7 separate regions of the Homo sapiens genome follow, and all the other regions are reported to be linked to region 3. Evidence: microRNA targets listed by miRTarBase, many of them from high-throughput screens and not tested one by one. Region 3 holds a microRNA gene; each other region holds the end of a gene's coding sequence.
Evidence for each region. The annotated mature microRNA hsa-miR-26b-5p reads UUCAAGUAAUUCAGGAUAGGU and lies in region 3 at 2,465-2,485, shown strand. An mRNA with a match to its seed (bases 2 to 7 or 8) in the 3' UTR can be bound and repressed. Matches are read on the target gene's strand: a 7mer-m8 pairs with bases 2 to 8, a 7mer-A1 pairs with bases 2 to 7 and ends in A, and an 8mer does both.

Region 1: miRTarBase lists F13B as a target of hsa-miR-26b-5p. The part of its 3' UTR that is shown has no 7-base or 8-base seed match.
Region 2: miRTarBase lists SERPINI2 as a target of hsa-miR-26b-5p. The part of its 3' UTR that is shown has no 7-base or 8-base seed match.
Region 4: miRTarBase lists ADAMTS12 as a target of hsa-miR-26b-5p. The part of its 3' UTR that is shown has no 7-base or 8-base seed match.
Region 5: miRTarBase lists GAS2 as a target of hsa-miR-26b-5p. The part of its 3' UTR that is shown has no 7-base or 8-base seed match.
Region 6: miRTarBase lists TRAPPC13 as a target of hsa-miR-26b-5p. Seed matches in the 3' UTR shown: 7mer-A1 at 3,228-3,234.
Region 7: the mRNA of TUSC3 is a reported target of hsa-miR-26b-5p. The part of its 3' UTR that is shown has no 7-base or 8-base seed match.

Annotation. Positions count from the first base shown.
Region 1 is chr1:197,036,076-197,040,172 of GRCh38, reverse strand. It overlaps F13B (coagulation factor XIII B chain), which reads left to right. Exons shown (of 12, transcript NM_001994.3): 12 at 762-1,432. The coding sequence ends at 795. Among named protein-coding and RNA genes, the nearest start is that of F13B, 29 kb to the left of the region's middle.
Region 2 is chr3:167,438,334-167,442,430 of GRCh38, reverse strand. It overlaps SERPINI2 (serpin family I member 2), which reads left to right. Exons shown (of 9, transcript NM_006217.6): 9 at 246-498. The coding sequence ends at 322. Among named protein-coding and RNA genes, the nearest start is that of SERPINI2, 34 kb to the left of the region's middle.
Region 3 is chr2:218,400,193-218,404,289 of GRCh38, forward strand. It overlaps MIR26B (microRNA 26b), which reads left to right and starts at 2,454; the gene lies at 2,454-2,530. It overlaps CTDSP1 (CTD small phosphatase 1), which reads left to right. Exons shown (of 7, transcript NM_021198.3): 2 at 1,372-1,520; 3 at 1,919-2,023; 4 at 2,157-2,213; 5 at 2,843-2,935; 6 at 3,040-3,225. RefSeq lists a silencer at 1-123.
Region 4 is chr5:33,523,860-33,527,956 of GRCh38, reverse strand. ADAMTS12 (ADAM metallopeptidase with thrombospondin type 1 motif 12) reads left to right here. Exons shown (of 24, transcript NM_030955.4): 24 at 591-4,097. The coding sequence ends at 769. Among named protein-coding and RNA genes, the nearest start is that of TARS1, 85 kb to the right of the region's middle.
Region 5 is chr11:22,811,316-22,815,394 of GRCh38, reverse strand. GAS2 (growth arrest specific 2) reads right to left here. Exons shown (of 8, transcript NM_001143830.3): 8 at 2,394-3,597. The coding sequence ends at 3,379. Among named protein-coding and RNA genes, the nearest start is that of LINC02718, 16 kb to the left of the region's middle.
Region 6 is chr5:65,664,340-65,668,339 of GRCh38, reverse strand. TRAPPC13 (trafficking protein particle complex subunit 13) reads right to left here. Exons shown (of 13, transcript NM_024941.4): 12 at 3,956-4,000; 13 at 2,107-3,836. The coding sequence ends at 3,729. SGTB (small glutamine rich tetratricopeptide repeat co-chaperone beta) reads left to right here. Exons shown (of 11, transcript NM_019072.3): 11 at 1-2,412. Among named protein-coding and RNA genes, the nearest start is that of TRAPPC13, 41 kb to the right of the region's middle.
Region 7 is chr8:15,757,024-15,761,023 of GRCh38, reverse strand. It overlaps TUSC3 (tumor suppressor candidate 3), which reads right to left. Exons shown (of 11, transcript NM_006765.4): 10 at 3,169-3,233. The coding sequence ends at 3,215. Among named protein-coding and RNA genes, the nearest start is that of TUSC3, 220 kb to the right of the region's middle.

The sequences.
Region 1 (4,097 bases), not on the chromosome of region 3:
AAGTTCAAGCACTACTAATAAAGGTTGGAAAATGTGGTATTTATTTTCAGGACCACATTTTTGTGTAACTTTTGGAAATTACATACTAAAGTGTTTCCTCATATGACAGTTTAAAAAATATATCCTCTGCTACTTACAGGAAATAATTTAACAATTTTCTTAGAGAAATGTTAAAAAAGTATAATAAAATGATGTAAACCATTTTGTAGGATCACAATTTTAACCCTTTTTGAAGACACTATATATAAAAAATGGAAATTATATTTTTTGTTCAACTAAGAATATTAAAAATATAAGTAGTGGCAAAGTGCATGTGGTCCTGTTTTAAAAAATGCAAACAATGAACTGTATGAACTACATAAAGTCAGTTTTTTAGATGCTTTGACCACTCTAGTAAAAAAATATTTAAAAGACACACAATAGTGGGAAAAATTTTTATTTTTATTTCTAATTGTGGTAGCATCAGGGTGGAAAAAATTTTATATGCTATTTAAATGTTTTGGTACAGTATGAATTTCTCACTTTTAAGAGAAAAAGGTAAACACGTAGAAAATATTTAAAAAATCATGAGTAGTGTAGTAAATAATATTGCATTTTTAAAAGGGAACTGGTGGTATTATTTACTAAGTAAGATCATTTATTCTTATTAGTACTTAATAAAAACAATGACTCATTATATGAAAAATTGAAAGGCTGAGATTGTAATTAACACCTGACTGCAATTGATGCTTATTTCAAAAATCTCTCTTTTTCCCCTCAAGCACTCTGTCTTATCAAGAACCCTTAAGAACATAGAAATGAATGGCAGAAAGAGGAGTCATATTTCAATACATCATGAAATTCCTTATAAAATATAATTTTGAGGAAATAAGTTAAAAACTTCGGAGTTTTTCCTTGCTTAAATATTTGAATCTAAATTATTTGTGCTGAACATTTCGTTATTTATAAATGAAAACCAATAAATGTCTAATTTTTAGTTTGTATGATTTGATGTAGAACTTAATCTCTTTTGTATGTCTTCCATCTGTTACAAATTAATCTACACATCATATTTTCATTTCCTAATGCCCATTGACTAGACTATATAGTTGTTTTCAATATACTGTATGTGCAAAAATTTCACATTCACATTCGTCATCATCTTTATTAATATTAAGGCTTTTGTTACCCTTAATTCAAAGTTTATGTCACTATTAAAGGGCCAAACACACTAGAGATAAGAAACTATATGCTGTATTAGAGGATCTGCCTTATTAAAGGCAGAAGAGACTGCCCTTCAGACTTTCTAAATGTAAAAAACTTTTAAAATTAACTGTAATATTTGCTACAACGTTAATAACCAAATTGTTTATGAGGTGGTGTACTACCATATTTGAACATGTGCTCAAATATTGTTAAAGAGACACAATTAAAGAAAGAATGACCCTTGGAATTTTATTTAATTTTATTTATTTATTTATTTATTTATTTAGAGACAGAGTCTTGCTCTGTCGCCCAGGCTAGAGTGCAATGGCATGATCTTGGCTCACTGCAATTTTTGCCTCCCGTGTTCAAGCAATTCTCCTTCCTCAGCCTTCCAAGTAGCTGGGATTACAGGCGTGTACCACCACGCCCGCTACGGTTTTTTTTTTTTTTTTGTATTTTTAGTAGAGACAAGGTTTCACCATGTTGACCAGGCTGGCCTCGAACTCCTGACCTCATGTGATCCACCCGCCTTGGCCTCCCAGGACTCTTGGCATTTTTACATTTTACACTTTCAAGTCTTTTTTTATATCAAATAATTTTTGGAATTATGCAGACTACAAAATCTGAAATAAGAGAGTTCTACAAGCATCAAAAAATGAGTGTCAGTATTATCAAGGTCTGTTAGAGACATGAAACAGCAACACTGTCACTTTTTCATTTGAAGTGAGAGTTATACTTCTAATTATTTCAGCTCATTCATAAGCATATGTAATAGCACTAGTACCCAGATACTAGGACCCCGATTAGGATTGGTTGTTGGTATTAGAACGAGTTTTCCTTTCTAGAAACTACTCAGTTTTTCTAACTCAAGATCTTAGTTTCTCATTACGATGATATTCTCAAATGCCCAATGTACAATTCTCTACTGCTGGGTATGAAATAGCTTCTTTTGGAAATGATGCCACAGCTGACCTAACTCTGTGGATTAAATAAGTATTAATTCATTCAATGTTAAACATGTATATTTCAGAACTGTCCTTGAGTTCATATTCATTATTTTAATTAATCTCCTGTAGTAGGTTCCCACAGTGGATCTCATAAAAATGGAAATTTAATTAAAATTAAATATCAACAGAAAAGCATTAATCTTTTTAAATAAATTTCCCAATCTATCAATTAAATAACATTATTGAGCACCTGCTATATCCCAGGGAACATGCTGGGTAGTACAGGATTCAAAATGATTAAAATTCACCTCGTTATTTCAAAGAACTCACAAAGTAAAAAACTACTTACTTAGTAAAAGAGATAAACTTGTACTAGTGATTGCAGACTCAAAATGGGTGATGATTGTGGCTTATCTAGTGATATTTCTAGTGAACTGGAGATGGCATGCACTGTTTAACCTGGACAACTACTTCGCTCAAGGTGAATAATTGTCATGGGGGAATATTGTATCCAGTATTGCCATATGTTCTGATTTGTTAATTGTGAAATGCACTGATTTTTATATGTTGCGAGGAGATAAAAAATTATTTAGGCAGTGCAGCTCAAAGTAAACTCCACATGCTAAAGAAATAAAAATTTTGAAAAGTGCAACAGTGGAAGCATGTACGAAGTAAAGTGGTGGCACAAAGTAGGTAGTATTTAACCTTTTTTTTTTTTTGTATGAATGTGGTATAGGAAGCTTCTTGGAAAAAAGTTAAAGTAAATCTGAGGTTTACAAAACTAGAAAACACACTTCAAGTAGAAGGAATGGCATTTGCAAAGTCAAAGCTCATACTCTATGCTAGGCATTACACCGAGCACTGAAAATAAAACAATGAATAAGACACAGACTGTTTCTGCTCTTGTGGAGCTTGTCTCTCGGAGCGGAAGAAAGATATAAGCAAATCCTTACAAAATAAGGCATGGCAGCAAAGACACCATCTTTGTCAGTAAACACCAGATGATACTGCCTAGTACTGGGTGTTTAAAAAGTCTTCAGTGAGGAAGTGATATATAAGTGACATATAGGCTGAGATTGGATGGGAGAAATGATAAGAATTCATGTAGAGAAAGAACATGAAATACAGCAAAGAACATGACATTTCCAAGAAGCTAATAAAAACCCAGTATGGATTGAGTGGAAAGGAGTGAAGGACAGAGAGGAGTATGCGAAACTTGGAGAGGTTGGAGCCCTGATTGTGAAGGCCTTTGTAGGTCAAATTAAAGATTTTGGAAGTCACTAAATAGAATGCGATGCTTACTGGGAATTTTTAAAAGACATCACTGACTGTAATATGGAGAGACTGATCTGAAGGGCAAAAAGTGTGGGCAAAGAGAAATCACTGAGGAAAACGAGGCAGTCATCTGGCAAAGATAAGGTAGTCACTTACACCGGTGGCAGCAGCAGGATGGTACAAAATAGGCTGAAATAAGATATTTAGGATGTGACATCATTATAATGATAATTGATTAGATGTGGGGGACAGTGAGGCAGAGAAAAGAGTTCAGGAGGACTCCTAGGTTTTGGCTTGACTAAGTGGCTATCTAAATATGATAGGAAGAATGGCAAGGAGAAGCAATGGGAGGGAGTGGGGATTAGCATGAAGAGTTTTATTAATAATTTTGGAAATGTGCTTTTGAGGTATCTGTGAGATAGGAAAGTGAAAAGACTAAGTAAGCACTTGATTTTTTTTTTTTTTTTTTTTTTTTTGTAGTCAGAGTCTCGCTCTGTCACCCAGACAGAGCTGGAGTGCAGTGGCACCGTCTCAGCTCACTGTAACCTTCTCTTCCCAGGTTCAAGTGATTCTTGAGGAAGCACTTGATTCTTATGGTTGATGCTTTGATGAACCACCTAGATTTCCTTCAGAAACACAAAGACTTACTTTTCCAGCTACTGGGAGCTCTCACTTATCAGTTCCCTAAAA
Region 2 (4,097 bases), not on the chromosome of region 3:
TTAATGCTTTTTCCATGACAAGCTGTAGTGGGTGTTAATTTACCTCATAAATTACCAGAAAATGATTAATAATGATATAATTATGAATTTGAGACAAAGGAGAAGGCTTTGCTATTAGACACTGCCTATTTATCTTACAGAGAAAAAAGACCAAATGACATGTTAAATATTAAGAAAAACTAATTATTGTCAGTTGTTTTCTCCTGAAATTCCTAAAGTATATTTTTTTGTTTTTTTTTCCCTAGAATCAATTCTGTTTATGGGAAGAGTGACAAATCCTGACACCCAGGAGATAAAAGGAAGAGATTTAGATTCACTGTGAATGAAAAGCACAGCCTCAGAATAAAAGATGATTTCTCAAAAATAGCTGATTGGCAAAATATCGTCATCTTGACAATATTTGCTCTATATCTTATGTCTTTTCTGTTTTAAACTGTGCCTGTAGTAATAGATATCTGTCTTGATGAATAAGTAAAATTAGGTATGCATTTGTTTCCATTCCTTCTGTATGTTTTAGAAAATCTATATGCATCTAAAACCTTGAGCGTACGTAAAATATTACCATTCATATGTTAGAACAATCCTGTCTATAATATCTTAAATACCAAATTCTTGTCTTAGATAGCAAATTTATTATTCCCTAAAATACTAGACTATTAGATTCAGGCATAGTACCATTTTCTAGCCATGGGGAAATAAGATAAAGAGACAATGGCCATGGTACATGCCTCTCTGGGGTGTCACTCAAGACACAGAGATCCAGTATTCCTTGCAATAGAGGAGCTTTGGGTATTTCACTAATCTTAACTTGTTATTTGACATGTTACATTTAATATTTATGTTGTTTCAGTACCTTTTGAAACATACCAGTTTTTTTTCTACTGATTTATGGTTTTAAAATGTACACAACATAGAAATGCTGAGCGCTTCTGTAAAGCATTCCTCTTTTTATAGGTGAAAGTGGCAGCATAATTAGCGTGACTCAGGAAGCTGAACTTCCACAATTTTACAATACTGAGCCAAGGAAGTGTTAGAGTCAAGATTGTGCACTATAAAGATTAAATGCAGATCCCTTCCCTTGAATACTCTGAAACATCACATCTAAATATCAAAAGCTAAAACTACATTCCAATATTACTTCATATAGCATGTTTCACAGTTTTTCCATTTTCAAGCTAATGATGTAAAATTCCTTTTTGTTTGTTTGTCTTGGCAATTTTGGCAGAGAGCTTAATGATAATAGCTGCACCTCAATGAGCCCTAATTTTGTGTTGGGCTCACTGAAGTAAGCACTTTTTACCTTATGTTAAATGTACTAAAATTTTTATGAAACAGCATTACCTAACTTCCTGATAAAGAAACTGAGATTCAAAAATGTTATAAAATTAGTCAAAGACACATAACTGATAAATATGGTGGGTAGATTTGAACTCAGAACTACTCGAGACTGACATTCAAAAATGTTATAAAATTAGTCAAAGATGCATAACTGATAAATATGGTGGGTAGATTTGAACTCAGAACTACTGGAGAGTGACATTGAAAAATGTTATAAAATTAGTCAAAGACACACAACTGATAAATATGGTGGGTAGATTTGAACTCAGAACTACTCAAGCTAGAAGTCTGTGACCTTAATTACTGAGTTATATTCCCTTTGCAGGGAAGGAAAAAGTAATTTTCTCTCTACTTCTCATAGCTTTGAGCTAGTATCCCTTGTAATAAAATACAGGATAGCCAGGTGTGGTGGCTCACATCTGTAATCTCAGCACTTTGAGAGGCTTAGGTGGGAGGATCGCTTGAGGCCAGGGGTTCAAGACCAGCCTGGGCAACATAGTGATATCCGGTCTACATAAAAATTAAAAATAATAGCCAGGTGTGGTGGCGCATGCCTGTGGTCCCAGCTACTCGAGAGGATAAGGCATGAGGATCACGTGAGTCCAGGAGGTTGAGGCTGCAGTAAACTATGATTATGCTACTGTACTGTAGTCTGGACAACAGAGTGAGTCCTCGTCTCAAAAAACAAAAGATTCACAAGAGAAAAACAGACATTTGTTAACATGTATACCACATGTACACATAGAAGACACCCAGGAAAAAATGAGTAAATCTCAAAGAAGTGGCTTAGAACTCTGGCTTACATAGCATCTTCGACAAAGAACAATACATGGTTGAAGAAATGACAAAGGAAAAGGACCTTGGATTTATAAGGGCAGTAAATTGTAGGAAGGCAAATATATGGTAGATAAAGGCTATTTTGTAAAATTTGTTATGTAGATTCCTGTGGTGATATCTCCAGGATGATAAGGGTCTTAAGTCATCTTCAGTGATCAAATTCTGTCCTACTTGGTAGAGAGAGGAGGAGGGATAACTTTGTGAATTTGTATTCTGTTTTTAGGCAAATTGTTTAGGCAAGGCAAATAACTTTTCCTGTATCTACTTCTTCTCAGTTGCCTTTAGCTCAAAATAACCCTTATGCTAAAGTGGCATCTTTTGGGGTGGCATATTCTGCTGCCCTCCACCTTCTATTTTAATTTTCAAAATCTAGGTATCCATCTACAGCAAAACCTACAGCAATACTCAAGACATTATGAAGCCAACTTTAGAATGAATTGTGATTGCTTAAAAATCATAACATAATTGAAAGCAATGTTCATTACTCTACTTTCAATTTGAGCATACTTAGATATAACACAGTAAATACTAATCTATATGTTAGTAATATGCATTTGTGGCATAAATTCCTCACAACATATCTGTTTTAAAAATATAAGTCTTTGTTTCAGGAAGGAGAGAATAATGAGTTAAGAGGATAGTAGTTTTATTCAGCTGTGGTCCAGATTCCTGTTTCTCTTGGGTTGGCTGAATTCTTCTGATCCTCTTTCATGCATTAAATGTCATGCTCTGGGGATTCATTCATTCATTCTACAAATTTTAATTGAGCTTCCACTATGTTCCAGGTAGTTTTCTAAGCACAAGGGATGTATTAGTGAGCAAATCTGACAAGGTCCTTGTCTTCCTGGAGCTGACATTTTACTGGTAGCAGTAAACCAGTGAACAAATACAAAAACAAGGTAATTTCAAATGGTAATAACTGATGACATTAATAAAGCAGAAGAAGAAAATAAGAGGGGTTCAATAATTGAGATGATGTAATAAGATCACTACCCAAGTTTCACTTTAAGTACATATTCTTACAGTGTGTTCCTAATGTATTTGTTTTCCTTAATAAGATTTGCTAAAAGTCTGCCACGAGTTCCCGACTGAGGATCCTGAAAGCATTATACAGAAGTTGGGTAATTTATTTTTCTGATTTCATGTTCTTCTTCCATTTGGCTTAAAAATGGGAGTGTCTTCCATAAGCTCATTGTGTGGATTCAAGATAAAAACCCCATTTTCTACCATGTTCTGGAAATACATTTGCCGAACTACTTCCAAAATTAAAACATTTAATTTTTTCCTTCAGTTGTAAGTAACTCAGTAGTTATTACAAGTTTGCATCATAAAGGTTACAAGTATATGGAATACATTTACAAAACATACATCTATTTATGAAGGAAAATAAGTATGAAATAATTTTCTTTGCTAAACTGTATGAAATCTGTAGGATTCACAACAGTCCATAATCAATATGGGATAAAATTACTGTCAATACCCCTTGTAAAAGTCCAGTACATCATATATAGGAAATATTTGTATTCCTCATGGAGGCAAAATAATTATTAAAATAGTAGTATTTCTTTTGGAAACTTTGGGTTTTATTGACTTCACATAGCTATAATTCATGGCGTATTCTAGAGGAGTTGTTACCAGACTGAACTTGGGTCTGCCTGCCTGGCACAGCAAGGCCAAACAATGACATTGGGATTTGCAAGAAGAAAAAGTGAGGCATTTATCGCAGGGTGGCAAGCAAGGAAAATCAGGCAGCTCATGCTTAAGATCTGAAATACCCAGTGGCTTAACTGTAAGAGTTTTTAAAGGCAGGGAGGCAGAGGTTACAGGCAAAGCTATAAATCAGTACATGGAGGCTATACGTTGGTTTGGCCTAAAAAGGTGGGACATCTCAAATCAGGTGAGTGGGGAGGGTGGCATGGCCC
Region 3 (4,097 bases):
CGCCGTGGGAGGAGAGAAGGGGCCGGGATCTTCCCCAGGGGAGCCGCCGCCGCCGCCCCGGGCGGCCGCCTTAGCTGTGCCCGAAGCTCCCAGCCCGAGAGGGAGCAGGGAGAGAGTTTGAACTCAGAGGAGGCTCAGAGACGCGGGGCGGGGCCTGGCGCCTTTGGGGCGCTCCTGTTCGCTCGAGGTGAGGAAACTGAGGCAGGAATAGAGAGGGAACTCTTCGGGGGTTTCCTGGCAGGCATTGCGTGGTGCATGGGCGCCCCCCCACCATTGGCGCCAATGGGGCTGGGAGATGGGGGAGCTGAGGAGGGCGCCTATGGGCCACCCGCTGAGACTCCGCCCCACCCCCCACCCCCACCCCCCCGGGCTGCGGTCCGGTAGGGTCTTGGGAGGGGGCGCCGAGGTGACAGCAGGCTGGGGAGGCTTGGAGGGATCTCCCGCCAACACACAGCTACGTTCCCCACAAACTTCGCGTCACGCGTGGAGGCGCCGACCCCCTCGGAGGCACAGAGAGGACGGCCGGCACTTCCAAGAGTCGCTTGGCGCCCGCGGGGAGAGTCGTGCGCCTAGTGGGCACGCACCACCCCGCAAAGCCTCGCCGCCCCGACGAGGCTGCGTCCCCCAGCGTGGCTGGGCCGGGGTGGGGGGGTCTGTCTTCTCCTTTTCCCCGTGTGGACCTCAGGATCTGGACGCTGCCCCCAGGTCTGCCCACCCTCGCCTGGGTCTGGCTGCCCCGGAACTGAGGGCAAGGTGGAAAGGCTAGTTGCAGGGGGCCGGAGGGGGGTGGGGTGGGAGGGGTATCTGTCAATCAGGCTGCTGGGCTCCAGGTCGGAGGTCTGGGCGGGGCAGGGCAAACAGATGGCCACTGGACACTGGCCCCAGGCCGCGGGACTGCACCCCTGCCTCTGGGCCCAGCCGCAGTGAGGACTTCGTACCCACGGGGGTGGAGAGGATGGAGGGAGGGCAGGGGTGGACTGCCCTGGGTCCCAGGCCCTGGCTGTCCTGAGCAGGGGTGCTCAGGTAAGGTGGGGTCAGGAGGCACCGCAATGGGGCTGATCAGCAGCAGTCATGGAGGCTGTGAGAGGCAGGGAGAGAGCACCCCAGGACCTCCTTCTCCAGGCCACGCACTCCCTATGTGGGCGCCTTAATACCTGCTAGACCTATTTGTCTGGGAGCTGCAGGAGCCTTGCAGTTGATTGTGGAGCCCTGACAGGGGCGTTTCAGAGAAAGTCAGGAGCTGCCTTCGTGTGTCTGGATGAAGGGGCCACGGCAAGATCCTCCTGGCTCAGGGGTTCACACCTGGGCACACATGCAGGATTCTGCAGGCCAGTGTGCACCGAGCCTCCAACTTGTGCCTCCCTACTTCAGGTGACCAGAAGTCAGCAGCTTCCCAGAAGCCCCGAAGCCGGGGCATCCTCCACTCACTCTTCTGCTGTGTCTGCCGGGATGATGGGGAGGCCCTGCCTGCTCACAGCGGGGCGCCCCTGCTTGTGGAGGAGAATGGCGCCATCCCTAAGGTGCGTGGGGGCCAGGTGGGGCCACGGGGGCACCTGGACTCAGTCTTCAGGGCTTTAGGGGAAGGGGCTCCTGACTGAGCTTTTCAGGATGGACTTGCAGACCTGAAAGGTGCAGAGTAGGAGGGTGGCAGCCTCCCCTGCCAGGCCCTGCCCACTGTGGGGAAACTGAATTCTCCCTCATAAGTGGAAGCTTTTTCCTACCTTGGTTTTTAGAGAGGTCTCAAAGAGCCAAGAGGCCTACCCAAGCCCTAGAGCTGGCAGGGGCAAAGCTGGGAAGGGGGAAGTATCTGTTCCTGGGGCCTGGGGTTCCTCTGGAGACGGCTAGGGGGAGAAGCCTGCGTGGGAGGAAGGACCAGGCCCGGAGAGAGGCACCCCAGCCAGCCCCGCCCTCCCTACAGCAGACCCCAGTCCAATACCTGCTCCCTGAGGCCAAGGCCCAGGACTCAGACAAGATCTGCGTGGTCATCGACCTGGACGAGACCCTGGTGCACAGCTCCTTCAAGGTGGGCCCTGCTCAACAGCCCTCAGCCCGGGTCTCGGGGGGCATCCCCCACCCTGGCCTGGGAGGGAGGTGTGTGCTGGACCCCATGCCCTGGGGCTCCTCCTCCAACTCCAGCAGCTCTTTTCCCCCCACAGCCAGTGAACAACGCGGACTTCATCATCCCTGTGGAGATTGATGGGGTGGTCCACCAGGTGAGGGCCAGGAAGAGGCAGTGGTGGGCTTGGCATCTGCCTCCAGACCCTAGGCTCTTCCCACCAATCCGGAGCGCCTCGGATGGGAATTGGATACATGTGGAATGTCAGAGGCCCAGAGAGGGTGTGAGACTTGTCCCAAAGTCACACAGAACCTCAAGGGCTTGTGCTGACTCCAAGCCTGCAGAGTGGGCTCCTCCTCTAGGCTCCCCCGTGCTGTGCTCCCTCGCCCCACCCTGCCCGGGACCCAGTTCAAGTAATTCAGGATAGGTTGTGTGCTGTCCAGCCTGTTCTCCATTACTTGGCTCGGGGACCGGTGCCCTGCAGCCTTGGGGTGAGGGGGCTGCCCCTGGATTCCTGCACTAGGCTGAGGTTGAGGCAGGGGAAGGGATTGGGAATTAGGGACCTCGTGAGGTAGGACTGGCCAGTGGAGTGGAAGTTTTGATCGTTTTCTGGCGGGGGGTGGGTACAGTTTCCCCAGCAGTGGTCAGGGTAGCTGGCCAAGCGGAGCCTGCGGGCCCAGTCTCCTTCCTGTGCGCCTCTGCCTCCCTGGCCCATGCCCTGCCAGCCCTCGGCCACCCCCACACTGCCCCACTGGCCCGCAGCCCCCTCACTGGCCCGCCCCCCAGGTCTACGTGTTGAAGCGTCCTCACGTGGATGAGTTCCTGCAGCGAATGGGCGAGCTCTTTGAATGTGTGCTGTTCACTGCTAGCCTCGCCAAGGTGAGCCCCACAGGGGTCCCGGGGCAACCCTGCCCTCCTACCTACCTCCCGCATGCAGCCCAATGAACCTGCGGGCCCCAGGATGACCCACCTCCTGCTCCCAGTACGCAGACCCAGTAGCTGACCTGCTGGACAAATGGGGGGCCTTCCGGGCCCGGCTGTTTCGAGAGTCCTGCGTCTTCCACCGGGGGAACTACGTGAAGGACCTGAGCCGGTTGGGTCGAGACCTGCGGCGGGTGCTCATCCTGGACAATTCACCTGCCTCCTATGTCTTCCATCCAGACAATGCTGTGAGTGCGGGCTGGACTGGGACTGGGACAGGAGCTGAGACCCAGGAAGGGGTCAGTCCATTCAGGCCACCTTGGCCTCTTGGATCCCCAGTTGGGGGGTGGGTGCCCTCCCAGTCCTTCCTGCATTCATTGCCTGTGCCTGCCGCCCACTCCCCTCATCCACCTGCCCTGTAGCCATATGGTCTTTTCCCCTCGCACAAAGCAGAGCATCTGCCATGCACAGGGGCCCCCACAGGGCAACGGAGTTTGGAAAGTTTCAATTTTTCGAATTGCCAGTTGTGACCTACTGATGGCCCACAGAATTAATTTAGTGGGTTCTGATTGGGAATTTTAACAAAATGAAATAGAATAGAAAATATCCGGTCGGGTGCAGTGGCTCATGCCTGTAATCCCAGCACTTTGGGAAGCTGAGGTGGGCAGGTAGCTGAGCCCAGTAGTTCAAGACCAGCCTCGGCAACATAGTGAAACCTTATGTCTACAAAAAATACAAAAACTAGCCAGGCGTGGTGGCGCATGCCTGGAGTCCCGGCTATGCAGAAGGCTGAGGTAGGAGTATCACTTGAGCCCTGGAGGCAGAGGCTGTGGTGAGCCAAGATTGTGCCACTGCACTCTAGCCTGGGCAACAGAGCAAGACCCTGCCTCAAAAAAAAAAAAAAGTATCCGAGTGCTTCGCACAGATAAGGTTAGGAATTGTGAAGCTTTTGCATTGTTACGTTATAAATGTGTTTTCCTGGGGATTGCTGTCAAAAAAGTTTGAACACTGTGGGTGAGGGGTTTTCAGAAACTGCATGATCTGAGTAGTGGCTACATAGGGCTGGCCTGGAAATTCTGCACCCAGGACCACCTGCCCCCCTCATCTTCCTACACCCACT
Region 4 (4,097 bases), not on the chromosome of region 3:
TGTGTCTTTTTCATATAATGCACAGTCATGTATTTTTTGCTGAGCATCTATAGGTCAGCCAAGGTTCACATGATTGAGCTTGGCTTTGGTTGACCTTGGCTGCTAACTGTAGGTTGAGTCCAGGTCTGCCCCATGTGTCTCTTATCACCCTTGGTGGCTGCACCAGCCAGGTTCTTCTTATGGTGACAGCAGAAGCTCATCAGGGAAGGCTTGTCCTCCTGCACATTCCAAGTCACTGCAGAGATCGTGTCTACTAGCATCCCATTATCTAAAGCAAGTCACAGAGCTGAACCCAAAGGCAAGTAGTTGGGAAGGATTCTCCACCCACTAGGCAGCCATGGCAAGGAGGGAATGTTCTGTATAAAACAATTACATGGGAGTGAAGAATTGTGACTGATAATTCAGTTTAGCATAAACACTCTGCACAGCGTCTGATACATAATAAACATTCAGTAGATACCACCTATTATGAATTGTTATGGCTCCTTTCTTGGTAGACATATAAAGTCTTACATTAATAGAAGTTGTGCTTGTATATCCACAAAGGATAATCTTTGGACTTTTTTCTTATTCTTTTTCTCCTTCCACAGATTTACTTTGCACTAAGGACAAACTGTCAGCCAGTTTCTGCCAGACACTGAAAGCCATGAAGAAATGTTCTGTGCCCACCGTGAGGGCTGAGTGCTGCTTCTCGTGTCCCCAGACACACATCACACACACCCAAAGGCAAAGAAGGCAACGGTTGCTCCAAAAGTCAAAAGAACTCTAAGCCCAAAAGGAAGCCAGCTTCCACCAGACTGCAGCAGCCTGCTGACCATGACATGCTTTAGCCCTGGGAGCTGCTTCGTTGAGGTTTTGCTTCATATATTTCAGATTCAGCTTTGGGTCATGATGAAACAAAATCCATTGTGTTCCTCTAGCCACCGAATGTCCCTCACAGGAGGCCTAGGCTGCCGTACTTGCTGCTCCCTGATAGGAAGGTGAAATAGCTAGGAGAATCAGGCAGCACCTGGTATCGGCTCCTGGGAAAGGTGCCAGGTTAGACAGATTTGTGAAATACTGTATTTTTGTTCTCCCTTAAAGATAAAAACAAAGAGACCAGCTATTTCCCTGACTACCTCAAGAGTATCAGGCAACACTTACCCAGGGGACAAATAATCTTCTTAATTTATCTTGATGAATACCTTTCTTTTTTTTTTCTTGCCTCCCTGCCTGGGGCAGCTGCTATTTAAAATGTCACAGCGGAGCTTTAGGAACATTCCTTTAATTCATCCAGGCAGAGGACTGCTTTCTTCACCCCATGTTCAACTAGGGCAGGAAGTGCTGGTTACATCCCTCAGTCTCTTCCTCCATCCCTGTAGGGCTCCATATCTGGGCTGCTTAGAGTCTCCTGCCAACCTTGGGACACTAGACTAAGAGGAAACAGGCATAAGAAACACAGCCTAAGGGGTTTAGGTCACTTACACAGAAAACACTTCTGGTTTGAAGAGCATTTCTATGAAAACTCGTAAAATGCAAATGAGCAGAAATCAATTTCTTAATATTACAGAAAAGGAACTGTGGGCCTTTATTCTTCCCACTTTCCTGGCAAATACACACTCCTTTGCAGAAGGGAAAATGTGTCTTCCTGGCTGACTTCCTCCCATCCTCCAGTCCCCACAGGAGGCCTGAGCTCAGGTCCCACCATCGTCTTGCTGCAGGGGCTGTATATGCAAAGACCACTATGACCAGCTCTAGGGCTGCCACCTGTCCTCACCTCTTCTCAGGTTGGAAAATGGAGGTTCCATATTAAAATATTTCAAAGAACCAGGTAAATTGTACTAAGTACAAGAACATAGTGCAAACTTCTAATCTAGAGAAAAAACATTTCTAAAAAGTAAGGTAAAGGGGATCTACTCCTCAGTGTACCCAATATGTAGTTAGTCTTAAAGATCTTTTACTTTGGGGAGAACAGGTGAATCAGGGAGTCCAAAGAAACTGAAATGAAAGTTAGAATGCTTGTTCTGGATGTTCCTACCTCCCACCAGAAGTCAAAGTAGGCTTGGTCTCAAATTCAGAGCAAATTTCTAGACAAAGTGATTTCTAAGGGAAGGTACTTACATGAACTGAACCCAGAGAAAGAGGGTAAGTGGGTGGGTGGAGGGGCATAAGCTTCAAATGAAAGAAGATATCAGAACCAATTCTTGACAGGGAGAAAGGCAAGGATGTGGCCTTCATGTGATGGGCAGCATATTTTCTGACTCATGCACAGATACACTTAATACTCCTCATGGAACACAATATCCCACGTCTCCCTTTACCTATCCGTTCAGCAGAATGGTGCTATTAAAAAAATGGTGCTAATATCTAGATGGTGGCAGAATTAATGTAAACATAGATAGGCATACAAATGGGTAAGTGTATGTGAAACTCTCCATATACATCTTCTGTTAAACATGTAACGGTGTTGCTGACCAATGCCAGTTTTATTGCTTGGGTACCTTGAATTTAAGATTTAATATTATGTGCTTTTTATTTTTTTCCAAGCCATTAACGTGTATTACTCTCATGAATTCCTGTGAAAAATAAAACAGTGGGATTGGGATGAAATTCAAGATAGACCAGAAACAGGAGGAAAGTACAAATGTTTACCTAAAGCCAGAGAATTTATTTCTAGATGATAATTACATTATTGTATTCTCTGCCTTTAAACATAAACATTGCTGGCCGATAGCAATCTCTGGTGAATAATGGTTTTCGAGGAGAGGAGACACTTAAATTGTTAGTGACATGAGTGGAGGAGAATCTGATATTTACTAATGAGGCAGTTTGCAAAGACTGTCCCTGAAGTGTAGTGTAGTCTTTCAGGGGGATTCATTTAGTAAGCTAGATTGATTTAACCTGGTACTGTACTAGCATAGGGTCAAATACGTGTCATCAGAGACCTGGGTATGACCAGGCTTACAAAACTCAGGAACAAACTCAGATTCCTACTGACCTCAACCAACTAAACTAGGCCAAATTTCTCCGTGTACAAAATGGACCACGTTATTTACAATCCACGTGGTGGAGAAGATGGTAGACATGTGGAGAGAGTTTGGCCAGGTGCTCCATTCTAGGTCTTTTTCCAGTTTCTCAAAGGCAGAACATTGGCTCCTAATTATTTGCCATGGATATTTGCTTCCTGTTCTGGAGCTATGTTGTAAGACAGCTGTGTGATGTCCATCATTCTTGACTCCAGAATGAAGACAGGGCTTGCTGTTTTCTGTCCTGTTGGTATCATCTGTTGCCTTGGCGATCACTCAGTGATGAGTCGTCAGTATTTTGACATGTCCCAGTGCTTGCTGTACAAGAGGGGACTCAGATCAACAGGAAGACTCTGAAGACAGGAACCTGCATGGTATCTTACATCTTTGATACTTGGGTGCTGATATGAAGCAGAGTTGTTGATTTACTTTATCTAGGCCCTTCTTTCTTCTCACCTGGATCAAGCAACTGAGAAGTGTATCAGGAGACACTGGATACATATCTCTATGAAATAGAGAGGGCCATCGCAGGGCCTGGTACTTAACTACATTAACGTTCTAAAACCCAGTTTGGTTTACGTTGTCTTTCACAGTAGTATATTTAGCTCTTCTCTGGAAAGTTGTGGGTTAATATAATTCTTAAACATGAAAATGTAATTAAACACACCACGAGAGAACAATATTCCAGGAGACTTAATAGTGATTACTTTCTTCAATCAGGAAATCGTTTCAGTGCCTCCTTTGTAGGAATGCTTTGTTTTGTGATGGGTTTTCTTAAAGAAGAGCACACCTCCGTCCAATCTCCTGAGACAGCCACGTCTCCGCTGACATCCCACTGTGATGCTTTCAGATAGTCAGTGAATGTTTCTGATAACCTTCATCCAGTATCTGAAACACAATGTGAGAGATTATATTGTTTTAGATAATAACATCCCATTTAGTTGACTAAAATCTTCCAAACTCTGAAAGCTGCACACTGCTACTCCAGAGAGTGCAGGTCTTAGCTCTTCTCCTTTCTGACTTCAAGATGAATCTTTGGGACGATGTTTCTGGTGCTTGGTCCACAGTGATTCACTTTTGAAGGAGAGGCCA
Region 5 (4,079 bases), not on the chromosome of region 3:
TCATGAAATAGAATTTTAAGAAAAGAAAAGCATTGGAATTAGAGCCATTACCTGTTTTACCTTAGGCAAATTATTTAAACTTTCTGATGCCTTATGGCCCTTAAAATGCAAAATGAGAGGATTATAAGATTTCATAACTTCATGGTTAATCTGAAGATATTTTACACATTAGAGATGTAGTTGGTTGGTTTCCTTCTTCATATGTCTAGAAAAACTCATTTCATGCTCTTTTCTGAGAGATAGTCAATGGTCTTCAGAAACCCTAAGGACAAAGATAGCCCCAACATGACCCAGAGAGAGGAATCTGAGAAAAAATTTAATTAATCACAAACAAGTTTAAATTTAGTTTACTCACCCAGTGTTCTTAAATGTTCTTTTGGTAACATCTTTGAGGAAGTCAACTCTAGTCGATATTGTCTTTTCAGTGACAAAGTGTCAAGTACCTTATAAGGTGGGCATTGTGTCTTGGATCATTTTTGTAACAAAGTTCCTCTTTCCTTTGAGCTACATTTGGTGATCCAGAGTTTTCTACTCTTTCTCCCTGCTTCTATTCTTTTTGCTAGTACAAAACAATCTGTAGACAAGACAGCTAACAGTTCCTCCAAGTAATTTCTTAACAATAAAAAATGAACACCTCCCAGCGTTCCTGAAATCATTCCTTATATGTCTCTGATTCAAGCACTTTTACCAGGTATCCTGTAGGTACTATTCTGTCCCCACCCACATCAGGAGACACTGAATATGATAGCATTGAGTCACCTAATTTCAGAATCAGCCTAGTCTGCTCAGTGTGTTGATATTATTTCTCACTGTGGCCTTTTTACTATTTACTTGAACTTCTGGTTTGAGATGTTTCCACTCTGTTTGCAACCAGATTTCTAGACTATTTAGACTTTTTAATCCTTTATTCATTGGCTATTGGACCCATCTCTCCATTGTCCTTCTTTGGATCTTACATCTAGCTGAGAATAAGGTGACATTAACCTACTTGGTCTATGTCCTGGCCAGTCTTCAATAAGGAGTTGAGGAGTAAGAGGCTGAATATAGTCTCAGTTTTTTTCACATCCCTGGTTGGTGCCGATTGACTAGCAGCTAGACTCCAGTGCCAGTTGTGACCATGTTTTCAGTGACACTTAAAAGACCATCTTAGATGTGGTATGGGTATCATAATCCTTCCCTCCCTGCCAAACATGTTCATGTCCTAATCCCTGGAAGCTGTGAATATGTTGTTACATGGCAAAGTCGATTCTTTAGATGTGCTCAAGTTAGTGACCTTAAAATAGATTATCCAGGTAGATCCAAGCTAATCATGTGATTGTTAAAAGCAGAAAACCTTTCCAACCTATGAGAGAAAGAGATGTGAAGAAAGAAGACGGGTCATAGAGATGCTACATTGCTGATTTTGAAGATGGAGGAAGGAAATCATGGAGCTTAGGAATGCAGGTGGCCTCTAGAAGATGGAAAAGGAAAGGAAATGGATGCTCCCCTAGACTCTTCAGGAAGGAAAACAGCCTTGGTGACACTCTGATTTTAGCCTATTGAAACCATGTTGAATGACTGCAGAAATGTGAGATAATAAACATGCTTATTCAGCTACCAAGTTTGTGGCAATTTAATGCAGCAATAGATAACTACTAATGCAAAAGATAAAGAGGTTAATATTACTTTTGTTAAGCTACACTTCTTTAATGAAGTTGACTATTATCTTTAATTTTTGTTTTAGAGACAGGCAGTGGAATTATATTATTAAGGATATAAATACGCTTATGGAACAAATTTAGGCACAGGAGAAAATGTTGATGGAAATATTGTCATTAACTATACAAAGAAACTCAGTGTCAGTATTAGGTAATTTAAAGATCTTAATCTTTATCACTCAACATTATATTTTAAAATATATTAGAATTATTCACTGCACCAAGGTGACTATCTCATACAACATCTCAGGGTTTTTTTTTTAATCGATTTATTTTTTTTAGGTTTCACTGACTTTCTCTCCCCCAAATGATTATCATCACTTCCAGCACTACAAAATTATGCCATGCATGTTATTTAAGAACTTCTCAATTAACACATTATGTATATTTTGACTAAATTTGTCATGTGACAAATATTCTTCCTTCCTGACTTTTTGGAGCAAGAAAGGTGGATTCTTTTGTTGATGTTGAAAAATGAATACATGAAAAATTAATTTTCTATCCTTTTTATACTGAGAGCAGCACTTATAATAAAACCTGAACTCTCTGCTAAGGAAAACTAACACCACCATCACTCATCTCCCAAAGTGAAGAAGTGCCAGGGAGCCCTAATTTGATTCTTCTTATAACTGTTGGAGAAAGTTGCCATTTGAAAATTAACTTGATTTCAGAATGAGGCATTGATTTAGAGACAGATAACATTTTTAAAATTTATCCTTTTAATTCTTGAATGAGTAAGGACAATATTTTGCTGTTTATTGGTATAAAACAGCCCTGTCCCAGGTATACAAGGGTATACGTAAGTCTGTAACATCATTAGCTACAGTGAATTTACTTTACTAGAAAGCATAGCAAAATAGGATTAACTAAAGATATATTTTTAATAAGAAAATGCTTTGAAATAACATGAAATCAATGAACATTTGACTGTACAATTTACTCGTCAAAGTATCAACGTATGTCAGCTCATGTATGAATTACACTAGATCATTCTAAACACAGCCATGTGCTCAGGAATGTGTGAAATAACTCATAAGCTATTCTCTAAGGGGGTGTACTGAAAACTTCTAAAAGTACCCCAGATATTTGGTCATAGATAAGAGATATACTTTAAGGCAGCCTTCCAAGTGAATGTAAACTTTTCGGAAGTGGCCTTTCCAGTAACATATTACTATTGTGAATACTCTGTACTTATGTGTAGTGCTGTTGGATATTTTTTGCAGCACATTATCACACTAATCATCATTTTGTAAAAAAAAAAAAAAAAAAGCATAAAAATCTTGCAATTATAAAAATGTCTGGAGTGCTTTTACTCATGAGTGTAAAGCAGGCACTTTCTGTTGACTTATCTGCAAATCCTAAATGTTTTCTCCTTATTTATCTTTAGTTAGAATTGTGTTTCTAATATTGTGTTCTAAATACTGTGTTCGCATATTGAGAAATAATAATTTGCCTAAAATTTGGATAATTTAAATTTGAGTTTAGATTTTCTTTTAATAGGTCATATTCTACAGAAGCATTAAAAATAAATAGTGCTACTCTTTGAACATTTTTCAATATGATGACATTTTTCTGTCTATCTTTCTCCAAAACAGTTTTCAGAACATATGAACTAAACTGACTATACTGGAGAAGTGGATACAGGCCATTATGAGGGTCCCCTTGTCATGACCAATTTGTTTCACTTAATTTCCTTCTTAGCCTTATAACTGGCAGAGACCACCAAGTAGTTATCTGGATTCATGTCCTTTAGAGTTGGAGATTTGCTTTGGATAGGGGATGTTTTGCCATCCACACGGGAGATCTGCAGCATTCGGCAGGGGTCGTGTTTCAACAAATACCCTGCAAAAGTTTCCCAGCCTCCTCCCACACGGACCATGACATGTTTGTTGTGCAGCATCTGAAATGAAAAAATATCAAAAGTGTTAAATTCCGAGAATTCTTACAGTACCTTGAATCAACCCCTGGTTCTAGTGAAATTAGTGTTTTGGTTTGTATTTCATGACCCATTGTTTTTCTACTTGGTGCAAAATGTCTGAGTTAGCATATAGTCTATGAAAGAAGTCCTGTTTTTTTTCTGTGGAAGTGATAAGAATAAACATCTCCAGAACCCAGCTTTGCTGTGCTATGGGAACCAGCACCTACGTATAATTCTTTGGTTTAATGTGTCTGGAGGCTTCTCTCTGACATCTGATCTTCTATTACAGTTCTTATTACTGCCTCTGGTTCCTGCCTACTGACTCAGCTTAGTGCTCCATTTTTCCCAGTGGGTTATTCCCCTCTGAATCAGGATTTTAAGGACCATGGAAATGTCTGCTACTGAATTACAATGCTAAGAGTCAGACAAATACTCAATACAAAATAACATTGAAAGTGCACTAA
Region 6 (4,000 bases), not on the chromosome of region 3:
CTGTGCCTGGCCAGGAAGTAATATACAATTAAATGAGTAATAATGCAGATGATTAGGCCTTATAGAACCCTTATCAAAAGACTAATTGGCCGGGCGCTGTGGCTCATGCCTGTAATCCCAGCACTTTGGGAGGCCAAGGCAGGGGGGATCACCTGAGGTCAGGAGTTTGAGACCAGCCTGGCCAACATGGTGAAACCCACCTCTACTGAAAATACAAAAATTAGCCTGGCTTGGTGGCGGGCACCCGTAGTCCCAGCTACTTGGGAGGCTGAAGCATGAGAATTGCTCGAACCTGAGAGGCAGAGGTTGCAGTGAGCCAAGATTGCGCCACTGCACTCCAGCCTGGGTGACAGAGCAAGACTCCATTTCAAAAAAAAAAAAAAAAAGAAAAAGAGACTAAGAGACTAATTATTTTGTATCTTGAAGTTTAAAATCCAACTTTTCTCTTTCTCCTTTGTGACATTAGAACAGTAGTTCTATAACTTCATTGTAAGAATCACCTGGATAATTCATTAAAGATGCAGATTCAGGGCCACGTGTTCAATTCTGATACAGTAGGTCCTGTAATAAGGCCTAGGAATGGCCATTTTTAAACAGTACACTAGGTGGTTTTGATACAGATCCAAGGACTCTAATTTAGAGGAACACTAGGTTAGAGGTTTCTCAGACCTGCAAACACCTAAGCACCTGGGCCAAACAAAGCTACAACGAAGATCTGTATGAAGATATATAGTTCTGCAGAATTTAAAAAGAGCACAATTTAAGTCTTCGGCCCTCAGAAGTTAAATTCATATTCCATCTAAGCCAACTTTGATTTTCATTAAGTTAGAATGAACTCCTAGTATTCCAGTATTACACAGAACGAAGTACTACTACTAACACATAGAAGTCATTACTGTGATATAAAAAGCAAAATAGATCCTTAATTAAAAATTAGTCACTCATATTCAGTGTTGAATAAGAAGTTAAAGTTTCTAGCATAACTATCTTGAGTGCATTAAAAATGCTTTTAGAGCAATAAGATAAGCTTCTAGCTGACTGCCTAGAAAAACAGAAGATACAAATTCAGTGTCAGAAATGAAAGGGAATACACTACAGACACTATAGTTATTAAAAGGCTAACTAGAAAACACCATGACCAACTCAAGGATTGTATATTTAACAACTTAGATGAAACAGATTCCCTATAGGATACAAACTAGAAAGCTCACTGTAGAAACAGATAACCTAAACAGAACCATATTTATTAAGGAAATTGAGTTTGTGGTTAAGTTAAAAACCTTCCAGTAAAGAAAACTACAGGCCCAGATAACTTCCGTGATGAATTTTACCAAACACTTAAGGGAGAAATAATATCAATTCTAAACAATCTCTTCCAGGAAACAGAAGAGGAGGAAATACTTCCCAACTCATTTTATTTGACCAGTATTACCCAGACAAAGATACTATAAGAAAAAAAACTTTAAAACAATGTCTTCATGTGCTAACATCTGTAGTTAAATTAGCCATTCTTTTTACATGAAATAATGGGAATTGGTATATTTCTTCCATTTCATTTTTCTATTTCTTTGCTAATATACCACCTGTAACAAATTCAATCTAGATGCTATCTGTCCACTTGCCTACATTTCCATTCTATTCAAGCCATTTTTGCTCTTCAAGTACCTTGATCACTTTGGAATCATAGCATTGCAAGCTATTTCAAAAAAAGTTGCGTGGTTGGATTGTGCTAGCTACTTTTAAATTTATAAAAAATGCCCCATATATTTTCTTGCTTGTCTGGGAAATATAGTTGCTATCTAACTAGAAAAATAAGAGGGCATTATTAAAGTAACTCTTTAAGCATCGTACTAAATGTTTGACTTCCATTAACCATATTTCTTGTAGTAGCTGTAGCTATTATGATACTGTGTAAAACAGAACAGGTTCTATATATGCAAATGACATTTTCATTTAATGTACCAAATTGTGTATCTAACTTTTATAATATAGGTTAAACAGATCCTTTCTAAGATGGCATTATTTAATCTTTACTTAAAACTATGAAAAATATGTGTAAGTTATTGTTTATAAACAGAAGAGACTATAATTAAAATATAGAGCAGATTCCAAGTGACCATCATTTTACTTTTTAGATTTAAAACAGAATGAAACAGAAGATTTAGTCATAAGAAGATGCTTGAAAAACAATCCAAGTATCCAATGCAGTGGCTATAAAATATTATTTCATCATTTAATCTTAATCATTTTGAAACAAAGACAGACTTCAATTTTACACTGCTTGCACTTTATTTTGTACAGACATTTCATTAATTATTACTCAATTTTGAGGTGCAAACCTTCTGAATATAGCTTTCATTTTGGACCAAACAATTTGTTATGGCAATAAATAATGATGCATTGAAAAACCAATTTTTGTATTTGATTTAATGCACTCTTACATTTAAGAAATTATATATACATTCTTGAATTTCAACTTACCAAAATAGAATAGCTTTTATTTAACAGCCTAAGCTTTTGTTTTCCTGACAAATACTGAAACTTTTTGTTACATTAATGCTGCAAAGTTGTTTATCACCTCAACTTTCTCACTGCTTTGCTCATAACTAAGTGTGATTACATGGAGAGAGAAAGTTTTGTAACAGTAACACATGATTTAGAGTTTAAAATCATATCAGAAGATGGGAATTATTTAAATATACCTTATAAAAATAAGTGGCTTAATCAATGAGAAAAAAACCCAGGGGTTTTTGGCTTATAATTAGAAAATAAGTATTATTCTTAGTTAATAGTTAATTAAAAAAAATCAACAACCTAAAAAGTAAAACCAATTCTGATGTGTTCAGTAGCTGAAAGATATGTATGTTTGTAGGTATAATATACAAATACAGACACAAACCATTACAGTAATTTTGAAAACAACTAGAAAGCTTATACTGTGTTGACAAATATCAGGTTATAAGAGGACTACCCCCTTTGTTTTAAGCAAACTTTTTCTGCTGACCGAATAGCTAGGAAAAAACTGGAGTTAACTGAAATATTTCTAACCAAAATATTACAAAGTTCTAAGAAACAACTCTATCTTCTAGATTGAGGTCAGCCAACTATACCCTGCAGGCCAAATCTGCCCAGCTGCCTCTTTTTTTTTGAGACAGAGTCTCACTCTGTCGCTCAGGCTAGAGTGCAGTAGCATGATCTCGGCTTAACTGCAACCTCTGCCTCCCCGGTTCAAGTGATTCTCCTGCCTCAGCTTCCCGAGTCCAACTGCTTCTTTTTGTGTACACCACTGTACTTTTTTTGCCTACTGGCTGCTCTTGAAGTACGATGGCAGAGTTCAGTATTTGTGACAGAAACCTTACGGCCTGCAAAGCCTAAAATATTTAGTATCTTGTACCTTACATAAAAAGTGTGCTGACTCGTGTTCTAGATAACTTGCTAGGGACAAATGGTCTCAGATACACAGCTTTTGGAGAACAAAGTCCAATGGTCATCTAAAATGAAATGAAATTAAATAATAGGTGTAGAAAATATACACATGTTCATTTCAAATATAAATTACAAGATAAAATCAGATCTCTTCAAAACAAATATTTAATATTTTAACCATTTTACAGGAAAGAAAATTTAAGTAACATATTTACTTCGTTGTTGACGTCATCATTTTACAAAGGTAACAAAAAGAGCAGTTCTGTGAAACTAAATGAAAAGCCTAACATTGGAAGTTTCCTTCAGCTTTCCACTTTAATGGCAGAAGATACCACACAGACTTGTGCGATGTCATCATATTCATATGTTCTCTTTAAGAATGTGTCTGTTAGTCTTAAGCCAGAGATGCTCTATTGAGAGAGAGAGAGATGAGTCTAAGTTTTCATTCATTCAGAGGAAATACAGACATCACAAATGACTTGTAAGTTAACAGCACCCAAATATTGGAATTTTTGAAAAGACAGCATACTTGCAGTCCCTGTACTGAAGAAAGCAGAGTAAGGGCAAGACAGAG
Region 7 (4,000 bases), not on the chromosome of region 3:
AGTCATGGCCCTTACATTTCTTTTAGCTAAAGGAAAGACCTGGGTGTGATTAAGTATGATACAGTGACATATTTGAGATGATGACGGTGTTACAAGAACTGAAAAAGCAAAACTCTGAGAACAAGTAAGATGCAGGGACAGCAGCCTCGACCGAAGAAACTGGATGAGGAAAGGTATGAAAGTATGGGAACATATTCAGTGCTGTGTTCAGCATGGCTAAACCGGGAGTTAGCACATTTTCTGTAAAGAGCCAGAAGGTTAAGTATTTTAAACTTTGTGGGCCATGGGTCTTTGCTGAAACCACTCAGCTGAACTGTCGTAGTGCAAAAGCAGCCAACACATAAAACAAACCTGGCTGCGTTTCAATGAAACTTTATTCATAGGCACTGATATCTGAATTTCATAATTTTCATGTCACAAAATATTCTTTGTTGACGTCCCACCCCCCAATGATTTAGAACTGTAGAAGCCATTCTTAGTTTGTAGGATAAACTAACACAGACAGCAGTTACTTAGTCTTGTATTAAACCACAGGGTGTACTGAAAGATACACCATAAAAAGCTGGATGGCATAAAACTTAAAATAGTTGTGGCAATTCATACATTGATATTACTACATAGGTGTAAAATCATATATATTGTAGAATGTAGTTAACTGCATAGGAATATGCTCATGATGTATAAAAGAAAAATAAGCAGCTTACAAAATATGTATTACATAATTCCCAAGGTTCAAAATATGTACAGGCTAAACTGATGACATTTGATGACCTGGGTGTTGGGATTTATGAATATATTTTCTTCATTTTGCTTACCTGTATCTTCTAGAAGGAACATGTATTAACTTTGCCTTCCTCTTTGTTATTAGCTATTAATGAATTTTAATGAAGAAGCAACATGATCAGCGCATATCTTAAAATAATTCTGACACTACCCTACAATAAGTGATGTATTATGGGGGATAATGACTAGATACCGGGAGACAATTTAAGAGGCTCGGTTATAGTCAGAAAAAGACACAAGGTACTCAAGACAGCAACTGTGGGAACAGAAAAGTAATGTAGGCCAAATAACATAAAGAAGGATGAGGATGAGGACAAAATGACTTCAAGATTTCCATCTTGTGTGACTGTGACAATGACAGTGTCGGGGAAAAGGGGTGGAGAAAGAGATTTGGAGGCAGATGATAATGATTTTTTAACGTAGTGAGGTGAACTGTTAATGTGGTATTCAGGTCTGGTTCTGGATGTCATGAGAAAGGTCAGGACTTGATAATGTATATTCAGGACTGAGAAATAATCTAAGAGAAAAAAGGAAGGTGTAAGAATGCCATGTTACAAAATCCAGGGTATGAAGTTTCCAAGAGGGGCTTGTCAACTAAAATGCTAGAAAGGTCACATGAAGAGAACTTTGGATTTGGTCACTGGTGGTTACTGGAGACCGAGGGTATATCAAAAGCTTGTTTGTTCCTTTTCCCTTCCTGTGAAATATCTGAACAGGTAGCAAATAATGGCTTGCTGTTTGTTTTGTTTTTTTTATTTATCTTGAATTAATGACTCCATCTGTTTCTCATATTTGGAAAACCCAGAATGTACACAGTGTTCTGGAACAAATGTATTCTGTCCAAGTGGAAGCCGGTTAAGTTCCGATATCCTCAGCTCGACAGAACATATTTGTGCACTGCTCTTCCTGTTCTTAAACTGGAGAGGAAGTCAGGAAGACCCAGTGGTTACATAATGTCACCTGTCTCACATCACTTATGTGGGTGGGTAAGGGGCAGCTGCTCAGATTTCATTTGGTATCCAAAAAAGGTGCAAACGGGAAAAAAGGTCTGGGTTGTTCACTAAGCACAGATAGGCCAGTGGTTGAATTTTCATTCCGGCCCATTGACCTTGTGGGTAGTGTAACTCACTGAGTCATTCTTTTTAATCTCTACTCTACATTCACATGTGTTCTATGAGAATGCTAGCGAGAAGTACATTGTGGCCCTTAGCTAGAATTCTTTAGCCAAAAGTCCTGGGGCTCTCTTCTCTGTAATAGAAGATTGCTAAACCCAGAAAAGTCTTTGAGTCTAAAACAAGTGGTCTTCTAAAAAGGCCTAAAGAAATCTAGGCCTTTATTGAGAGTAGGAAAACATCTCTGGGAATGGAAGCTTTTTAGATCTGTCATTTCATGGGGCAACAGCAGTCCAGTCTCCTAGTGCTCAGGCCAATTTTCTACACAGCCTCCACAGAGAGGCCTATGTAAAGTGTTAACCACATTTAACAATGAGGAATGACCAGAACATGGATAGTCAATCTGGGGGGAGAAGAACAATAAAACTAGAATGCAGGGGCTAAGGGACAGATGAAGAGCCAGTTCAGAACTCTTTTGGAACACAGGAGCTTCCCATTCCTTCCCTACGTTCAGTGGGTTGCTGAACGGTATGGAGCTTCTGCCAGAGTAAGAAGGCTGTATTACCACAATGGAATTAAGTCTCCAGAGCTGCTTTTGATGTGTTAGCCTAGACCCTGTGTTCTCTGGTCTTGAGGGGGTGGGATGTGCAGTGTGGAATCAAAAAACTGGATTGTGAATTTTCTGCAAAAAATTACTGTCAATTTTACATACATATAAAATTATATTTTTATGTAAAATTATATATATATAAAATTGACAGTAATTTTATATATATATAAATAAAGTACCTACTATCTGTTTCTGAATTTAGCAAATGTTGATTTTAAAAAAGTTTTCAGTAAGTTAACTGTTTGGAAGACTTGTATTTTTTATTACCCTTGAATATTAAGGCTTACATTATTTGTTAATGGGAAAAAAGATTTGGCTACATTTTTCCTAGATAGAATGAAATATATTTGTTGACTGCCTTTTTTCCCTAAGTGATAACAAACAGAAGTTAAGAAAGTATATTTGTTGGGGGTGGAAGCATTGCATCTGTCAAATGATTAACTCCACGTGTCAGTCTTTTGGTAGACATTTTTATCTGAGGACTTCTCCCTGTGGCAGATAAACATAATAATGTAAGACTGGAATATGGAATCTCACAGTTAAAAGTTATCTTACATTTGTAAAACAGTAATTTACTACAACTTGTCTTATGAGATAAATGTTATACTCTCTATATTTGAAAAATGAGGAAAACTGAGGCTCAGAGAAGATTAAAAGACTTGCCTGAGGTTATAGAGTTTTTAAGTGCCATGGTCCAAATCACATCTTCTCACTCAAAGTCCAGATCACTTTCCAATACACCACAATGAAATACAACAATATGGAAAAAATAATCCTTAAGATTGAATTTCCATTTGTACAATATTATTACAAGATTTAGCACTACATTCTTTATCTAGATAAGACAGGGGATAGACGATGGTGCCTTTACAGAATGCCAGCTTATCTCTTAATCATCTCTAAATCCTTGGACCTTTATAAGTCATTTTACAAAGCCAGGACTCAGCATGAGAAAGGTTGAGACCAGTGAAATTCTCATCAATGATGTGTACTGTGGGCTGATCATCACACCATTTAGATATTATTGTTCTATTTGTACAGCTTAAGGTTGTTAAGATGTACAAATCAATGCAAAATTGCTATACCCTCTACATGCTGGAATTTTTGCCTTGCTGTACTTGTTCACTATCATACTTTTTTCAAAATTGGTATGAATGCCTTTCATTTTTAGCTGTTATTCTGTACATTTCCTTACTGAATATCATTCCATTTTCATCTCAAGGTAACCAACGACATTAGAAACTATCAGTTTCGTTTTAAGACAATGGAAGCCACTTTCTGTGTCCACTGTAAGCTTAATTTATATATTCTGTTTTTCACTTGTTATCACCCAGCTTAGAATTGGAACTGCGATACCTCTTTTTTAAGAACGAGTTTTTTTAGAGACAGATTCTCAGTCTGTGGCACAGGCTGGAGTGCAGTGGCACAATCATAGCTCACTTGCAGCCTCAAACTCCTGGGCTCGAGTGATATTTCCACCTCAGCTTCCCCAGTA